4 separate regions of the Homo sapiens genome follow, and all the other regions are linked to region 1. The links come from fine-mapping of genetic effects on gene expression. A gene starts in region 1. Each other region holds a variant in brackets. All regions are shown on one strand. Distances are from middle to middle.

Region 1 (2,685 bases):
CCAAAAAAAAATTAGTTGTTTTCCTCCTTAAATTACAGCCTGCAAGATTGAAACAGAGTTTCCCCATTTCTATTTTGGGATCTGACTGAGTCACAAGGTAGTCTTGACGAATCACTCTGCTCTATCTCTCAGTTTACTGAGGCTGCCTGGGAACTTGAGCTGTCAGCCAAACAGGAAGAAGGGCCCTTCTGCCTACTCCAAAAGGCCTCAGTCAAATGGATATGGTGAGATTTAATGATGGATATAAATTACAGCAAATGGATTTCCTATAGGGTGAGGGAAAAAAAAAAAAGCAAACATTTTACTTAAATTCCTCTATACAATTTAGGGCTGGCAGAAAGGGTAGACTATTACAATGTAGCTGAGCAAATTTTTCCATGTTTGCATAACATGTGTTTTCAACTAAAGATACTCCTTCTATAGTCCTACTATATACAACACCCCAAAAAACCTCAAATGTAAGAAAAAGCAATGTGACAGATTTGACCCTGGCCAAGTTACACTGTTTTTTTTTTTTTTTTTTTTTTTTTTTTTTTTTAAGTGTCAGTGTTCATAAAGGCCCTTTTTCTTTTTCAAGGATGGGTATAAAGTGTTACTCGGCCGAACGCGGTGGCTCACACCTGTAATTCCAACACTTTGGGAGGCCGAGGCAGGTGGATTACGAGGTCAGGAGTTCAAGACCAGTCTGGCCAACACAGTGAAACCCCCGTCTCTATTAAAAATACAAAAAATTAGCTGGGTTGTGGTGGTGTGCCCCTGTCACAAGGTAGTCTTGACGAATCACTCTGCTCTCTCTCTCAGTTTACTGAGGCTGCCTGGGAGCTGTCAGCCAAACAGGAAGAAGGGCCCTTCTGCCTAACTCCAAAAGGCCTAAGTCAAATGGATATGGTGAGATTTAATGATGGATATAAATTACAGCAAATGGATTTCCTATAGAGTGAGGGAAAAAAAAAATCCAGCTACTCCGGAGACTGAGGCAGAATTGCGAGAACCCGGCAGGTGGTTGCAGTGAGCCGAGATTGTGCCATTGCACTCCAGCCCGGGCGACAGTGTGAAACTCTGTCTCAAAAAGAAAAGAAAAGAAAAAAAAAAAAACTATTACTCCACTCCCCACCAGAAACTCTTATTTTTTCCCCCCTATGTGGTCATGAATTCCTCCTGGGTGCATAGCTCCCTAAGTTGTTCTGTGTTTTAGTGCTTATAATTTCCCACATCCCATGATGCCCCTTGATAGAATTATTTTTTCTGTACTCACACAAATGGAAACAGAAGAGATGAAAAACCCTGGGGATGCGGCCTCGCAGGTCTCAAACTGATCGGCTGCTAAGCACAACCTGCATATCTCTTGGCTGAGTTCCTTTCTTGGCTCAGTTAGATTTTGCATGACCTAGGAGGCTTAGGACCCAGGGGGCGCCTTTCAGCTGAAAAACAGCTCGCGCTGCAGCAAGCTAGCTGGGAAGCTCCCAGTTCTAAAGAGAGGCTGTTTACCAGAACAGCATAACAAGGGCAGGTCTGACTGCAAGGCTGGGACTGGGAGGCAGAGCCGCCGCCAAGGGGGCCTCGGTTAAACACTGGTCGTTCAATCACCTGCAAGACGAAGGAGGCAAGGATGCTGTTGGCCTGGGTACAAGCATTCCTCGTCAGCAACATGCTCCTAGCAGAAGCCTATGGATCTGGAGGTGAGATTACAATCTTTCCTTTCCGCAGCAACTTCATGAAACAGAAGGGGTAAAGCCCCCTATTTCCCAAACAGGGCCAGGATGACAGGAAACGAAGCGTTTAGCCGGTTTCTGTTGTCCCGTGAAAGCTTTTCCACCCCTCCTTTCCTTGTCAGGGGCTTGCAGCTCCATCTTTGCCATTAAGAACAAAGGCAAGAAGCCACTTTCTCTCTGCCTTTCCTTGCTCATGAGTGGATGGAGCTTGGGGGTTCATCTCCCCTACTCCCCAAGTCCTGTTCTTTCTAAGCCCTTTGCATGGTGTGGTCCTCCTTCCCCAGCCTCCTTCTGTGGTTCTCCTGCAGAGGGGAGTGGGAGCTTGGAGTCTCATCCAGTCAGCGATGAGGCCGGTTTCCTCCGTTTGAGGCTGTCTTGAATCTTTTGCCTGACGGAGTCAAGGCTCCTGGAGAATTCTCCTGGGAGGGAGTATTTGCCTTTTAAACGGGCAGAAGGTGGCCGTATCCGTGAAGGAGGAAACACCGGAGTTTATGTAACGTGGCCATTACAACACAGGGACAAATGTCACGTCTGGGCGCCCCCCGTCCCAAAACTCCCAGCTCCTCAAAGGGACCCTAAGCCAGGCCTCCTCCTCTCCATCTCCTCCTCCAAAGTGGTCACAAGTTCAAGAGTAACAACGCTTTGCACTTCTGCAGCGCTTTCCAGGTTTCAAAAATAAATAAAACCTAACAGTCTCTGAGCGTTGACTGGGGGACAGGCACAGGCTGGGGGCTTCACACCCTGAGGTGTGCGTGGAGTTGGGGGGGGGGGGTGCGTGGGGCGTGGGGGTGTTGCCACGAGAGGAGAGGGAGGCCCAGCAGGGCCCGGGGTCCCCTAACCAGGCTGAGGTTCAGCCCGGGTGGTCCCGGCTCCCCTGTCCGCCACGCTGGGCGTCTTCCGTTCGCTGCCCGCTATTCTGTGTCCGGGGGCTTCTTTTCCTCACAGGCTGTTTCTGGGACAACGGCCACCTGTA
Region 2 (2,685 bases), 31 kb after region 1:
CGCAGCTGGTCCAGGCGTTGGGAGACGGGGTCATGTTCAATCAACAGCTGAAGTGTCTGGCTCGTCTGGCTAATTGCATCCTCCACCTGTGGCCAAGAGCAGTATAAAGCTCCCACAGGCTGCCCCATCCCAGGCCACCCATGGCCAACCCAGATGACTCAGGCACAGTGTGGCCAGTGCTCAACTTGTCTAATGGTGGCCTTTAGCTGCCAGTGGCCTCACAGTGCCCTCTGCCTGGCATCCTGTCAGCTCTCCCGTCCATCAACCATCCCTGCTACCCTGGGAACCTGTTACGCTGAAATAGGTCACCAGTGGTCACAGGCTCAATGCTAAGACAAAGAGATGGGCTGGGGGTAGGAAAAGGTAAAGGCTACAGCCTGATTTCTCAGAGGATCTGTTCCATGTCCCACCCTCACAAGACAGATTAGACACACACTCTACCTCCTCCACTCGAAGTGTGCGGACGGGGGTCCCATTGATCTCCAGGATGCGGTCCCCAGGGTGGATGGCGTTTCGATTGTTGGGACTGATGTGCATCCGGTTGACCCTGGGCCAGACAAGAGTTGAGGCAGGGTAAAGATGTCCTAAAAACCTGCTTGACCAATTCTGCTTGTGCAGGGAAGGTTTACCAGGTCCCAGGCCACCAGTGGCCCCTAAGGGGCCCAGGATACCCACACAGAAAGGCAACACCTTTTCCAGGATGCCCCATCTCAGTGAAGGGAATTGCCACTCACCCTGTGGCCTAAGCCAGAAACTTGAACATCATCTTCCCAATCTGGAGTTCCCTCATCTCTCCTACTCCCATCTCTAAGAACTCTGCCTTCTTTCCATCATTGTAGTTATTCACATCTCTTACCTGGATCACGGTAATAGCTTCTATTTTTTTTTTAAACTTTGTTTTTAATTTTTATTTGAGATGGCATCTTACTCTGTCATCCAGGCTGGAGTGCAGTGGCATGATCTGGGCTCACTGCAACCTCCACCTCCCAGGCTCAAGCAATTCTCATGCCTCAGCCTCCTGAGTAACTGGGATTACAGGCGCGCACCACCATACCCAGCTAATTTTTTTGTACTTTTTGTAGAGATGGGGTTTTGCCATGTTGGCCAGGCTAATCCCAAACTCTTTTTTTTTTTTGAGATGGAGTCTCGCTCTGTCGCTCAGGCTGGAGTGCAGTGGCGTGATCTCTGCTCACAGCAAGCTCCGCCTCCTAGGTTCATGCCATTCTCCTGCCTCAGCCTCCCGAGTAGCTGGGACTACAGGCGTCCGCCACCATGCCCGGCTAATTTTTGTACTTTTAGTAGAGACGGGGTTTCATTGTGTTAGCCAGGATGGTCTTGATCTCCTGACCTTGTGATCCGCCCACCTCGGCCTCCCAAAGTGCTGGGATTACAGGCGTGAGCCAC[T/C]GCGCCTGGCCTAATCCCAAACTCTTGACCTCAAGCAATCTGCCCACCTTGGCCTCCCAAAGTGCTGGCATTACAGGCGTGAGCCACTATGTCTACGTCTGGACTTTTCTTTTAATTAAGAAAAACAGAGACGGGGTCTTGCTATGTTGGCCAGGTTGGTCTTCAACTCCTGGCCTCAAGCAATCCTCCCACCTCAGCCTCCCAAAGTGCTGAGATTACAGGCATGAACCACCATGCCCAGCCTACAATAGCTTCCTAACTAGTCTCTATACCTTTAGGCTTTCCCCTCTCCAATCCAACCTCCATACCAGTGATCCTTCTAAAATGTTAACTTGGTCACAACACCTTGCTGCTTAAACTCTCAATGGATCTGCTGGATTTTCATAATCCAGGCCCTCTATACTTAACAGCCCCTTTTCTGGCCACACTCAACCTACATCAGACATGATTAAGACTCCTACTTTTGGAGAAATGCTTCTCCCTCTGCCCTGAACACAATTCCCTCTCCTCTTCATCTAATAAGGTTGTAGAACAGACCTTAGCTCCTCCTGACTTCCCAAACTCTAGTATCTTTCACCTGCTGTGCAAGCACTAGCCTAGTGTCCAACACATGGTAGATACACAATCAATATTTACATGGTAAGCGGCCAGAGGTACGACATTACTGGTATTAGATAGACACAGACTCTTTCTCCATCTGGTCTCTGGCCTGAATCTAGGATAGGGTCTTAACTTCTTTTGGGCCATGGACCACATTTTCTCCATTCATTCTCTCGACTGACAAAATAATAATCAATCAACTCCTACTATATGCCAGGTACTCTTCCAAGCCCTGGGCATGCAGCACTGAATAAGACAGCAAGTTTCTTCTGGAATTTACATTCTAGTGGAGGGGATAGAAGATAAACAACTAATACACATAATCAAGCCAGATGATTTCAAAGAGCAAACATGACCTGAAACCTGACACCTGAAAGGTGAGTGATTCTTGCCTTAAGTATCGGGTAGGAAGTAGCCTGGGCAGAGAGAACAGTAAGTGCCAAGGCCCAGGTACGGTTACAGCATAGTGGGGTCCAGGAGAAAGATATGAGATGAGAATAAAGGGAGTTCTGCATGAGACTTTGGAGGTCTAAGCCCTCTGAGGCCCATTTACAGACTCTGCTCAAGAACCCCTGCTGAAGGGTTCTCAAAATACTTACTCTTTCACTTGCACAGTGGTGGCGTAGTTGGAGCAGGCACTCTCCACGGACACGGAGAAGCCCCGCCTGCCTTCAGTGGTGG
Region 3 (2,685 bases), 47 kb after region 1:
TTATAGGGCAAAAGCAGCCATATATAAAACATAAACTAAGGGACATGGCTATGTTCCAACAGATATTTACTTATGGAAAGATTTTTTTCTTTTTTTTTTTTTTCTTTTGAGATTCAGTCTCACACTGTTGCCCTGGCTAAAGTGCAGTGGTATAAACATGGTTCATTGTAGTCTCAACCACCTAAGCTCAAGTGATCCTCCTACCTAAGCCTCCAGTGCATCCTGGGACCACACGTGCTGGCCACCATACCCAGCGTGTGTGTGTGTGTGTGTGTGTGTGTGTGTGTGCGTGCGTGCGTGTGTCGGAGTCTCGCTCTGTTGCCCAGGCTGCAGTGTAGTGTCGCGATCTTGGCTCACTGCAACCTCCGCCTCCCAGGTTCAAGCAATTCTCTTGTCTCAGCCTCCCAAGTAGCTGGGACTACAGGCGCATGCCACCATGCTCGGCTAATTTTTGTGTTTTTAGTACAGACAGGGTTTCACCATATTGGTCAGGCTGGTCTTGAACTCCTGACCTCAGGTGATCCACTTGCCTCGGCCTCCCAAAGTGCTGAGATTATAGGTGTGAGCCACTGCGCCCGGCCCTGGCTTATTTTTTTTTATTTTTTGTAGAGACAGGGTCTCACTTTGTTGCCCAGGCTGGGACACTGATATTTGAGTTTCATGTAATTTCCACATGTCACAAAGCATTCTTTTGCTTTTTTTCCCCTAACCATTAAAAATCACAGGTCATATAGGCCAGGCATAGTGGCTCATGCCTATAATCCCAGCATTCGAGAGGCCAAGGAGGGAGGACTGCTTGAAGCCAGAAGTTTGAGACCAGCCTGGGTAACAAACCAAGACCCTATCTCTACTAAAAAAATCAGTCAATCAGGCCAGTCATGGTGGCTCACGCCTGTAATCCCAGCACTTTGGAAGGCTGAGGCGGGCAGATCACCTGAGGTTGGAAGTTCGAGACTAGCCTGACCAACATGGAGAAACCCTGTCTCTACTAAAAATACAAAAATTAGCCAGGCGTGGTGGCACATGCCTGTAATCCCAGCTACTCGAGAGGCTGAGACAG[G/A]AGAATCGCTTGAACCCAGGAGGCAGAGGTTGCGGTGAGCTGAGTTCGTGCCATTGCATTCCAGCCTGGGCAACAAGAGTGAAACTCTGTCTCAAAAAGAAAAAAAAAATCAATCAATCACAGGCCGTATTAAAATAGGCAATGGGCCATAGCTTGCCGGCCTCTGTTCTAGAACCACAGAGCTCAACCACTCTGTTTACTACCTCTAATAGTGAAGAACAGCTCTTGGTGTTTGTGCAGAGCTCAGCCATATCTATCTATCTATACCACGAAGACACCACACTCTAGCCCCAGAGGCAGCCAGAAGAAGGAAGCACTGAACAGGTGCTCACCCTGTATTAAACATTGCTTGCAGCACTACTTGTATGAATGAATTTTAACCCCCACTATTCCACAGTGCTGTGATTTTTCTCTTTACAGATAAAGCAACTGAGGTACAGGGAGGTTAAATCACTTGCCTGAGGTCACTCAGCTGTAAATGTGAGAAGTGAAGCCAGGATTTGAACCCAGACTAGACATTATAGACAACGTTCTACCATGCTATACCAAAGCTCAGCCTGGGCCCAGAGCCAGACTGTCTGGGTTTGAATGCGACAATGCACTGCATGTAAGCCCTTGGCACAAAGTCTGGGACACATTAAAGGTTGATAAATGTTAGCCATTAATATCATTAAGACTATTGTTACAACTACTGTGGGCTAGCTATGTGGCCTTTAGCAAGTCACTCTCTCTGTCTGGGCCTTGGTTAGGTCTCTAAATAGCTCCCAGCATCAACATTTTTCACCCCTATGAGGTTGCAGAGGGCTCTCTATTTTCCTTGGGTCTCAAGTTGAGTTTAAACTCTTGAGCAGGAGGTCAGGATCCTAGCCGAGGGGACACACAAGGGCCACAGAGGAGGTGAGGTGGGCTGGAAGTGGGGAAATAACATACGGGATACTGAAAGGGCTGCCCAGCTGGAGAGCTGGGAGCAATCTTTCTCCCAGCCACACAGACAACTATTTCTCACCAAAAATCTATTATGTTCCCCTGTAATTCAATCAGGCAAGAAGGGGGCCCCAAATTAAGTCTGGGACTAGCAAATTATCTTTTAATTGTACCCTCTGATTTCCATGTGATGAACACAGTACTAATGGAAGAATATGCAAGCCACAAAGAGACTGAGGCCAGGGAGCCTATGAGCATAACTCCTCTTGACATTTCACACAGCTCTGCTGTTCCAGCGGCGACGGGCTCAGTGAGTCGGTGTCTAGGAATGTGAGCAGGAGGCTGCAGGCGCTCTCCTCTCCCCCTACTCCTCTTACAAAGGACTTGGTGGGTGGGTGGGGAATAAGTGAGAGGACATCTCAATGCCATGAAAACTGCCTCCCCCTGGAAGAGGAACAGCCTTCTCCCCATGTCCTGAGTTGAAGCAGAAGCCCCTCCCAGGTGGAATCCATTTGACCTCCAAAAATTCAGACTTCAGGAGGAACCTTTGAAGGATTGATCACCAGATGTGATAAGCTGCTGGCTGCTCAGACCCAAGTGTGTGGTTCCTCAGAGCCAACTTCAAAGGGCCCAAGCCACCCATCACTGGGAGATGAAATGTCACACTGGAGGATATATTTCACCCTCCCACCCTTGGAAAC
Region 4 (2,685 bases), 95 kb after region 1:
TAATTTTTATGTTTTTAAGAAAGCAGAGACAGGGTTTCACCATATTGGTCAGGCTGGTCTCGAATTCCTGACCTCAGGTGATCCACCCGCCTCAGCCTCCCAAAGTGCTGAGATTACAGGTGTGAGCCACCACGCCCAGCCGAGAACCTTAATTTCTTTCAAGATCCCTGACTCAATAATCCTACTCCTGGAAATCCTAATAAAATGCCATTATTCAAACTCAAAAAAAAAAAAAAAAAAAAAAAAAAAGAAAGTGGCAGTGCGCGGTGGCTCACGCCTGTAATCCCAGCACTTTGGGAGGCCAAGGAGGGCGGATCATCTGAGCTTGGGAGTTCGAGACCAGCCTGACCAACATGGAGAAACCTCGTCTCTACTAAAAATACAAAAATTAGCTGGGCATGGTGGCCCATGCCTATAATCCCAGCTACTCTGGAGGCTGAGGCAGAAGAATTGTTTAAACCCGGGAGGCAGAGGCTGTGGTGAGCCGAGATCGCACTACTACACTCCAGTTGGGCAACAAGAGTGAAACTTCATCTCAAAAAAAAAAAAAAAAAAAAAAGTGTGCAAAGATGGTTATTGTAGCATTATTTAAACAGCAAAATGGGGAAACAACTAAAAGGTCCTTCGATGAGGAAAACCCAAATTACAATGAACCAAAACTCAATGGGTTCCCAGCAATAGCATGGAAAAATAAAAAATAATAAAAAACTCAATAGGATAAATGGCAGCCTAAATAATAAAGAGGACACTTCAGAGCATCATGGAAAACCTGCCAAAATTAAATTTTAAAGCAAACAGAATGGTGATGGCTACATAAAAATACATATGCACAGCCTACAGATGAAGAGAACATGAGGATATGAGAATATACTTGTTCTGGGCTCTTGGCAATGGTGGGTAAATATTTTGCTTTTAAAATTTCTTTAACATTTTAACAGAATTTTTTTAAGAGTAACATTTGATGTAAATATGCAAAAAATGTAAATGTTTTTGTTCCTAGCCACTAGACCACTAGAGACAAATGTGCAATTTTTTTTTAGCCAGTAATCTTACTTCTAAGAATTTATCCTAAGCCAGGTACAGTGGTTCACGCCTGTAATCCTAACACTTTGGGAGGCTGAGGTGGGAGGATTGCTTGAGCCCAGGAGTTAGAGACCAGCCTGGGCAACATAGTGAGACCTTGTTTCTACCCAAACAAAACAAAACAAAAAAAAGAAAGACAAAAAAAAACTCAAAAAACTAGCTGGGCATGGTGCCGTGCACCTGTGGTCCCAGCTACATGGGAGGCTGAGGTAGACTGAGCCCAGGAGGTCGAGGCTACAGTGAACTGTGATCACACCACTGCACTCCAGCCTGGGCTACAGAGTGAGACCCTGTCTTATCCTAATAAAATAATAATGAACATGCTCACAAATTTATCTGTAAGTTCATCAGGATTTTTTTTAACTTGGAAAAAGAAAGCCGCTAATGTCTAACAAAGGATTGAATTATGTTAAATCCACAC[A/G]ACTAAATGCTAAACAGCTAGTTAGTAAAATATTGCTGGCAATGTAAAATCTCAAGATAATACTAAAAGACTCCCACTCACACAAAGAAGGTACTAAGTATCTGTAGAACAAATGAAATTTTAAGAGAGGGTTACAAAACAGGAGCCACATATTGTAAAAAACAAAAAACAAAAACTGTAAAAAGTATACACACATCTGTAAAATACACGCACAGATTTGTAAAATTTGTGTGTATATATAATTATAGAAAAATGGAAAAGAAAATAGAACCAAAATGTTTCCAGTGGTTACCTCTGGATTGGTGTGGTTATAAGTGATTTTTTTCCCCCTCTTTTCCTTTCTGTATTTTACAAGTTTTCCTTTACTTTTATAATCAAGGAGAAAAATTGTAAGGCTAAGAAGGAAACTTCTAAAGCCATCAGCTCATTTGTAGAAGCTTCTCCTAGAATGTTCCTCACCCCTCTATTCTCCGGCTCTGGCCTCTGTCCTTGAGGACGAGGAGGGGTCTTCTCTCTGAAACAGAAATGGTGTAAAATAAGTCTATTACAAATTGCTTTGAGTTGCTCCCTGTGAGGACCTGGAGCTCTTTACCAACAGGGTCAGGGCCATAGCCTCTTTCTTGTCCAGGACATGAACTTATGCCAGATTAATTCTCCAAATACGAACTCTTCATTCTACCTGCAACTGTTCTTCCCACGTGTATAGAGAACCAGGGAGAAAATCAACTCGTTATGAGATATTCACCAGATTGCACTACAGCCTACTCCTCTTACAGAGATCCTGACTCAGATCGGTTAGGAATCATGGCCAGATGCCTTCCCTGGGCCTGTTACAGATAACAGAAATCCCAAATCCATACTGGAACAGAGGGTGGGTTGTCAGCAGTAAGGGCTGAGGTTCATGGTTTCTCTGACCTTCCCCTATTAACTTCAGCTCTATCTCCTACTATTCTTGGGCAAATACCCAATGCTATTATTTTTGAGTCTCACCCCCTCAAATCACTCAACCCATGAATACTCAATTGAGGGCTTAGTTATACAATAAGCATTATGCAGGATGCTGTAATACTGATGACAGACCCAACCCTTGAAGTGTTCATGGTTTCAAGGGGGATAAAGCCAGTCATATGACACTGTGGTGGGAACTGGGTGAGAGCAACTAATGTGAAGAAGACAGACCA

Which allele goes with the higher level. Alleles are on the strand shown, and positions count from the first base shown. SD is a standard deviation of normalised expression in the study named. Not every link is listed here.
With allele C in place of T in region 2, the expression in testis of the gene that starts at base 1,466 in region 1 is higher (moderate effect, 0.73 SD a copy in GTEx).
As copies of A replace G in region 4, the expression in whole blood of the gene that starts at base 1,466 in region 1 goes down (small effect, 0.13 SD a copy in GTEx).

What was found. PIP is the estimated chance that this variant, and not a neighbour inherited with it, causes the effect. A credible set is the group of variants that fine-mapping cannot tell apart.
Region 2: its variant is the best candidate, but not a certain one, in a credible set for the expression of PIK3IP1 in testis (GTEx, PIP 0.88).
Region 3: its variant is the best candidate, but not a certain one, in a credible set for the expression of PIK3IP1 in whole blood (INTERVAL, PIP 0.50).
Region 4: its variant is the best candidate, but not a certain one, in a credible set for the expression of PIK3IP1 in whole blood (GTEx, PIP 0.87).

The regions. Positions count from the first base shown.
Region 1 is chr22:31,291,269-31,293,953 of GRCh38, reverse strand. It overlaps PIK3IP1 (phosphoinositide-3-kinase interacting protein 1), which reads left to right and starts at 1,466. Exons shown (of 6, transcript NM_052880.5): 1 at 1,466-1,679; 2 at 2,658-2,685. The coding sequence starts at 1,610. LOC105372997 (a long non-coding RNA gene) reads left to right here. Exons shown (of 4, transcript XR_001755493.3): 3 at 133-224; 4 at 802-1,010. RefSeq lists an enhancer at 2,084-2,133.
Region 2 is chr22:31,259,996-31,262,680 of GRCh38, reverse strand. It overlaps LIMK2 (LIM domain kinase 2), which reads right to left. Exons shown (of 16, transcript NM_005569.4): 5 at 2,604-2,685; 6 at 442-547; 7 at 1-86. Among named protein-coding and RNA genes, the nearest start is that of PIK3IP1, 31 kb to the left of the region's middle. The variant T/C (reference allele first, on the strand shown) is at 1,405.
Region 3 is chr22:31,243,787-31,246,471 of GRCh38, reverse strand. The region is part of intron 2 of LIMK2 (LIM domain kinase 2); the gene reads right to left. Among named protein-coding and RNA genes, the nearest start is that of LIMK2, 33 kb to the right of the region's middle. The variant G/A (reference allele first, on the strand shown) is at 1,061.
Region 4 is chr22:31,196,269-31,198,953 of GRCh38, reverse strand. It overlaps RNF185 (ring finger protein 185), which reads right to left. Exons shown (of 7, transcript NM_152267.4): 5 at 1,964-2,018. Among named protein-coding and RNA genes, the nearest start is that of LIMK2, 15 kb to the left of the region's middle. The variant A/G (reference allele first, on the strand shown) is at 1,505.